Linked DNA regions of Homo sapiens. The protein of the gene in region 1 purifies or fractionates together with the protein of each later gene. This does not show direct contact. Each region holds a gene or a part of one and is shown on either strand. Other genes may lie near its edges.

Evidence for each region. Proteins that work in one complex are often made in the same cells at the same time.
Region 2: the proteins of COL21A1 (region 1) and PLOD2 purify together in Homo sapiens (affinity purification with mass spectrometry; one large-scale study listed by BioGRID and IntAct). This does not show direct contact.

Annotation. Positions count from the first base shown.
Region 1 is NC_000006.12:56,244,781-56,248,899, forward strand, and holds the start of COL21A1 (collagen alpha-1(XXI) chain isoform a precursor), read right to left. Parts: upstream 2,801-4,119; 5' UTR 2,607-2,800; intron 1-2,606.
Region 2 is NC_000003.12:146,077,685-146,081,184, forward strand, and holds part of PLOD2 (procollagen-lysine,2-oxoglutarate 5-dioxygenase 2 isoform 1 precursor), read right to left. Parts: intron 1,574-3,500; coding exon 1,432-1,573; intron 241-1,431; coding exon 178-240; intron 1-177. UniProt on the Homo sapiens protein: Forms hydroxylysine residues in -Xaa-Lys-Gly- sequences in collagens. These hydroxylysines serve as sites of attachment for carbohydrate units and are essential for the stability of the intermolecular collagen cross-links.

The DNA of each region.
Region 1 (4,119 bases):
AAAATAAAAGAGAATGGAAATTAATTTCAAAGTACAGAATCATTTGGCATCTTTTTTGGCATTAATACCATAAATATTTTCACTAGATCTACTTGGTCCTAAGAGGATAATAGAGATCAGTTCCAATCAAATAATGTGAAAGGAATTGATTGTATGCATGTGTGTGTGACTTGAAGCATTTTGAAATTATTGCAGCTAAGGAAGAAAAGGACTCATTACCTCACCTACTCTTTTTGCCAGTTTAGGCTTGTCCTTGCTCTGTGTCCTCATTTTGCTTCCTCTTATATTTTCTTGAACAAATCATGATGTAACTGGATAGGGTTTCCTTTATTCACTCTGTTAAGAACCTAAGAAACACCAGATAGTACTTCTAAACTAGCTTTCCTGGAGACTACACCATCTCACTTTTAGATGCTCTCTCATTTGGATTTTCTTTTACAAAGAAAAGTATTCTGAAGAACCAGATTTTACGGCTATTTAAATATGAATGTTAATACATTATAAAGGCTACCAGAAGGTGAAATCCTTCACCACAGTGACTTAAAAAAACCTAGGCTATTGATTTGAAGCTAATCTAAAACTTTTTCCAGAAAGTTCCATATAAAGTATGTAATCAAATTATAAGGATAATTTGAGGATGTCCATATAGTCACCTTCTAAGAGTGCAGTTGGTATTTAAATAAAAATCTAATCATGTATCAACATAGATCTTCTTTTAAGGTGGTTGAGGATTATGTTGTTTGATGGTGTGTATACATGAGTTTGTATTTTGAGCTAACAAATATTTAACTTACTATGCTAGGCACTTTAGAAGCATTATTTAACTCTGACAACAATGTGAATTATGAGGTAAGTGTACTAGTACGCCCCACATTTCACAGATAAGGAAAATGAGGCTCGGAGAAGCTATGCAACTATCCAAGAGCACAGAGAAGCAGAAGAGCAGGTCTTGAACCCAGGTCTGCCTCAGACCAAAGTTCCTGTTCCTAACCACTATCTAAATTTCCCCCAGATTCTCTAAATACAAGCTTAGTACCTAACCCTTAACAAGTTTATATACCTCAGTCACAAATTGGCACAGAAAAAAAGCAGTTTGGAAAATAAATGTTCTCTGTACAGGAAGTCTTGGTACAGTTAGCCCTGTGTTCATTGCAGCACGCATGTGCTGGGATTGGAGTCATGCCTATTCTAGATTTTCTTATCCAGTGTCAGATTTCTAATCCATTTAAGCCCATTTGCAAAGTCATTCTATTTTTGAACTAATGGCTTAGAAACAGCTGGAACTATTTTAGCCAAAATTTTGAAATCTCAGATATCTATAAAAAGAAAAAAAAAATGGTCCACTTCAATAATCCAGAGGCCTGCAACACTGAATTCCCTTTCACTAAAGAGAATTGGCATGAATCCCTTAAACCCTCAACTACTTTAGGAAAAGACAAAATACGCATATGAATGCTGTAACCTGCACTGATGACAGTGATGATCCAGGAACATTTCATCAGGGGTCAAAGATTCCTGTTATTACAGCTGGAAGACTCATGTATATTTCTTCCTTGGCTTCATTTCAACTTTTAGAAAAGGAAAAATTCCTATTCTCTCCTAAAGCAAGTATACAAATTCTACTGCTTAAAAATTATTCGATGATGCTTAAGTCTCCCCTTTATAAGATCTTTCAAAGTCCCCAGTATGCTTTTTTTTTTTCAATATGGGCAAAACTCTACTAATAAATAACTAAGGTTCTTCTGAAAAGTGGTCTGTTGCCTCCTCCCTTGGTGAAGGGAAATTTGCAGGTGTCTTCTCTGATTAAGTAAGGTCCAACCCAACAGTTTTCAAACTTGAGCAAGCACTAGCATTACCTGGAGGGCTCATTAAAACACAGGTTTCTGGGCACCAGCCTCAGGGTTTTAGGTTCAGTGGGTCTAGGGCGGAGCTAGAGCCCTAGATTTTGTTTGTATTTCTCAAAGTTACCAGGTGCTTGCTGCTGCGGGCCAGATGCCACACAGCGAATCACTGCTGTAGTTCGCTGCTTTCTATATTCGACTGCACTTTGGAATCACCTGACAAAAGTTTTAAATATGTTAATGCTCAAAGTCCCACCCCCAGAGATTCTGAGTAATTGGTCTGGGGTGCTGCTCAAGCATCGATTTTTTTAAAGGTCCCGGAGTGAGTCCATAATGCAGCAGCCGTAAAGAACCTCTGGCCCACTCAACACAGCCCCAGACCCACAGCTCTGCGCGCTCAGCGCCACGTGTGGACGCTGGAGACCCTTCCAAGAAGCTAAAAGCTGAGGGTGGGGTTGAGCTCAGGGGAGTAAATCAACGCACGTTATCGTACTCAGAAGCCAAACACTCCAAGGCAGGAATCTGCACCCAGAGAACCTCCCAAGATTCATTAACATGAAGTAACTTTGCAAGACAAATCCTGACATCTCAGCCTCCAGCTGGGCGCGGAATTCACCGAACAGTTCACCAACTGCTTTGGCGCAGGGAGAAGACTGCACCCCCAGGAAACCCAAAATGCCAAATTGCAGCCCCTGGAGAGCCAGCCCTGAGGCCCCCCGAGATGTCATTCTGGCAGCGAGAGGGGAGTAGGAGGTGTCTCCTTACCTGGCGCAGTGTCCAGGCTCGGGGTTGCCGTCGCAGCCAGCTGAGTGTTGCGCCAGGGGGACAGGTATGTTCCAGGCAGTGGCAAGCCCAACCCGAGCAAGACCTGCGCTGAAACGGATTGGCTGCCCTCCGCCCGGAGTCCGTTCTCCCTGCAGCGGCCAGTGCAGAGCTCAGAGGCTCAGAAACTCGCTCTCAGCCCCCTGGAGGCGGAGCCCGGGAGATAAGGTTCGCGCTCCCCACCCGCCCCCTTTCCTTGGCCGAAGACCAGAGGGTGGATTTTGGATCTGGATCTTGAAGGGCGAACTGCTAGTGTCGCCCTGGTGGAAACACTCAGTTCAAATCCTGCTAGCATCAGAAAATGCACGATTGAGGATTGAAAACGAGGGTGAAGGAGGACCAGGGAAGCGCGAGGAGAGAGGCAAAATAAGGGACTGCCAGGAAAGCAGGAAAGGCAACTCAGTTGAAAGGGCAAGCACTAAAGGAGGCAAAGACTTGGGCAACACCAGAGCATCGCCTGCACTGATCGAAGGAGGCCTGCCTCCCTTGCCCAAGAAGAACCCCCCTCTGGGGCGCCAAGGTACGTTGCAGCGGACTGATGTTCCTTGCTTTCAACCAAAAGTAACAGCTGCTCCAAAACCTGAGGGAAGTTCACTTTCAAATAGTCAAGTAGGCAGTGACCTTTAAGGGTTTAGCAATTACAAAGGAAGCCTCGGAATAAGGTGACAGCCTTATGACAAGATAAAGATGCTGTCTGCTCTGCCCCTTTGAGTGCATTCTTCACAGAGCAGCCAGAAAGTTATTTAACATTCATATGCTTTCCCTATTATCTGCAACTCTTCTTTTCTCACCCGTGTGCACCCCTCCTACCCCAACACACACAAGACCTGTTTGCCCTTTCTTATACACACCAGTGTGTTCTCATCTCACTTGGCATTTCTTCTGCCTCCAAAACTCTGTCCCAGACCTTATCATAGTTGCTTGCTTCTGTTCATCAAATTATCCACTCTTTGTGACACTTTGAGACACTTTGAGAGTGAGTCCTTCCTGTACATCCCATCCAAATGGAATGCCCAACCCCACTTTGGTTTCAACAGATCACTTATTGCTATCTGAAGGTTTTCATATCTTCATTGCTTGTGTGTGTTTCCTATCCAACTCAAGGTATGCTCTATGAGGGCAGGAAATTGGTCTTGTTCCCAGCTGTGTCCCCTGAGCCTAGAACAATACCTGGAATATACAAGGTGCTCAATAAATATTGGCTAAATGAATGTGTGAATTAATTTCTCCCTGTGGGAACAGGTTCACAAAGAAATGCCTTCTTCAATAACTAAATCTCACTTAATTCAGGTGTGATACAAACATCTTCAAATGATCATTTCCTGAATTTCCTTATTCATTCATGTTAGATTCTACTGTTACAAAAATATGATAGGAGAACATTGCTTTGGATTTGGTAACATCTTCTTAGATATGACACCAAAAGCACAAGCAATTCAAGAAAAAATAAGTTAGA
Region 2 (3,500 bases), on another chromosome or scaffold:
TCACACAAGACCCATGCCCAAGTCACACAAAACACGCAAACACACAGATGACTGATGAAAATCAACATTTTACCAAGCTAAATGCAAATAAGGCCCTTAAAGAAACTTTACTACTAGGCAATATACTATATCAAATATTAAATAAACAAAAATAAATAAAATAAGTAAAAATAACACCTTTGGGGGGCTGAGCATTTGGAATGTTTCCGGAGTAGGGGAGTCTTTTTCCCTTTGTAAAGTCTAAAATGAAGAGAAGCATTGGGTAAGTTGACCTGTACACCCGCTCTCTCAGGTATTCTTTGGTAAATAAAAATAATAGCAGCTGTTGATCAAAAGCTAACATTCTGAAATGTCCTTCATAGACAACATGCAGAACAAGCAAAGCTTATAGCACACACAAAGAAACATCTCCAGCTCTTTCAGCCCTTCTTTTCTTTTCTTTTTGGGAGGTGTGGTGGGGTCAAACATAAGTCTAAGCTCATTCCTTAGCAGAACTTTCATTAGACACATAAGACAACGGAAAAAATGAGTAAGAGAGGCCATTCCATGATGCGCTGTTGAGTCAAATTAGCCAAACATGAGCACAAAATACTATCACAAGTACTGAGGATATTCAATAATAATGCACACAGGTTTGTAGAGAAAACAAACATATTCAAACAATACATGCTTTGTTAAACTAAGAAAAAAATACTTGCCAACTTTTCTGACTTTTCATCAAATCACAATTGCTTATATAAATTTGGAAATCGGAAATAAAATAGCCCCATCATTTCTAAAACCAAAAATCATATCAATATATTCTAAGCCATGTTTATGCATTTTGAAAAATTATTTTCTAGTCATTTTAAGTTTTATAATAAAAGTACATTTGTAGTGCAGCAAGGTATCATTAGTATTTTATTTAGAGTAAATACACTATGTATCTCAACACTTCTACTAGTTTGGTGGTAATAATCCTGCTTTCTAAGAATGTGAAGTTAATAATAATTTTAAAATTTTACCTAGTTAGAGAAAATGTGGACATTAATTTTAGAACAAAAATATTCTTAAATCTGGAAATATTGTTTCATCGAAGCTTATCTAATTAATTTTAATTAGGTCAAGTTTTCACTATAGAATTTCAAATTAAAGATGTATTCTTAAAAGAGCAAAGCTGATTTGTAACAAATACATCTTTATTACTGAAATCCAACTCGGTTGCCTATGAATTAGCCCGAGCACAAAAACTAACATTTTTCATACCATTTCTATAAGTAAATGTTAAATTATCTCCAAAATTACTCCCAAATTTTTTAACACAGAACCAAAAAAATTGGCTAGTACTTACAAATTAGCAAGACAAAGGGCATCAAAACACAGTGACACACCAACTGGTAAAGCAAGCCATCTTATAAGAACATTCAAGCAAGCCATCACTGCATATCTTACCATTTCTCTAGCATTTCGGCAAAGAGCCATATCAGGATCCAGTTTATCACGAACAAAATAGTTCCTTTCATTCATCTCTGATCGGAGTGTCTTTCCTTTAATTAAGTACACATTAGCCATATATGGGACATTCCATACTCCTCTGAAAGTAAAGAGAAGACATTCTTATATACCACAAATACAAACAATTTTAAGTTTCATTTTTACCTTTTTAAAATAAATGCTTTGTGTTTAGATTTTGTATACATAAATTATTGAATCAACATACAAATATATTCAATGATATATATATAAGATTACATTGTATACACTATATTTAATGAGATTTAGGAGATAAACCACTGCCCCTTTGGATACATTTCAATTTTGGGTTGGTATCTGTTTGGCATTTGTATTATAGCTATCATATCTCAATCAGTTGTTACAATTAGACTATTATAATCTATTGTATAGACGGTGTTTCTATTTAAAATTAAAGAATTTGATAGCATGAATCATAACATACAACCAGTGGTGCACTAGACCCAGCTCATACTGGCTCCCCAAAGTTAACTTTTTCTGCCAAGTCCATGTTCAGTAATTTCACATTGGAAACTTGAAATCAGCCATGGTAGAAGTATTTACACCAAACAAATGGGCAAGCACTTTAAATCAGGGAATCCTCCACCTCCAAAAGCCAGTTGTTACACATTTACCAAAATACCACTGAATATAGCCTAAAATTCTCCAAAATTATATTCTCTTACCATTCATTAAGCCATCTTAAATATTTTATAGAAAAAGGAAAACATGAAGAAATACAGCTGGGAGCACATGAACGTTGCATCCTTTCCCACATCTATATTCTCACTCTGAACATGACTGATTTCATAAAAACTGCAAAACAAGTTTTGCCCCTAAGACTGTGCGCCTTTCTTTTAGAGAACATCAAGGCAAGATCTTGACCAAGAAATGCAGTTAGATATTAACGGAAATATGATATTATGTCTTACTAGACTAGCCTCAAAGAAAAATGCCTTAAGGAGTACAGCAGTCCCCGCCTTATGTGAGGGTGATACATTCCATGACCCCAGTGGATGCTTGAAAGCAGATAGTAACAAACGCTACACATACACTACGTTTTTTCCTACACATATATACTTATAATAAAGTTTAATTTATACATAAAGTACAGTAAGACTAACAACAATAATAGAACAACTATAACAATATGCTGTAATAAAAGTTACATGAATGTTTACACTTTCTCTATCTCAACATATCTTCGTATTTTCAATCCACAGTAGACTTGAAACCATGGAAAGCAAAACCATAGATAAAGGGGAATTACTGTATACAACGTGTCAGCTAAATTCAGAAATTAATCTCTGGGGAATTATTCAGTGTTTCAACTTATACACACACACATACACACACACACACAGTTGCTCCTTCGTGTAGCTTTTGGACATGAAGTGTATTCCAGATCAAAAGCTTCTGCCATATTTTTTTCCTTATACTTTAGACAAGAATGACAGGAGGTTGGACAGAAAATCACCAATGCCTAAAGCAACTTGAAACAAATTTTCCATTCTACTTTCACAAACCCTCATTTGTGATGTGCCCAAAGATACAATCAGGTATATTGTCTATACAACTCACCCAGAGTCAATACAACTGCACAGAAACAACAGAATACGATCTTAATAGTCTTTTCTCCTCCACTGTGCATTTTAATTGCAGCTAACAAAAACCTTTATTGTATTTACATCATTCAGATTGAAGCTTTCCACACCAATTACTATTTCCACAAGCAACACATCTTTTTACCACTCAACTGTTTGAACAGAAACGTGTGCCTTTTTTTTTCTAAATGTAAGGGCACATCCTTTTAGTCCTGAGAGTATACTGCCCCTTTTTAATCAGGCTGACATGTTTGAGAACTAAGGCAAAGCATGTAATGTCTTAGTCACTCTGGTCCATCATATGTATGAAAAAAAGAATGACATTCTTCTCCAATATTACCTTAGCAAAACTATTTCAATTGTGATTATTTTTAGTAATCAACCATTGTCTCTGAAATAAATATA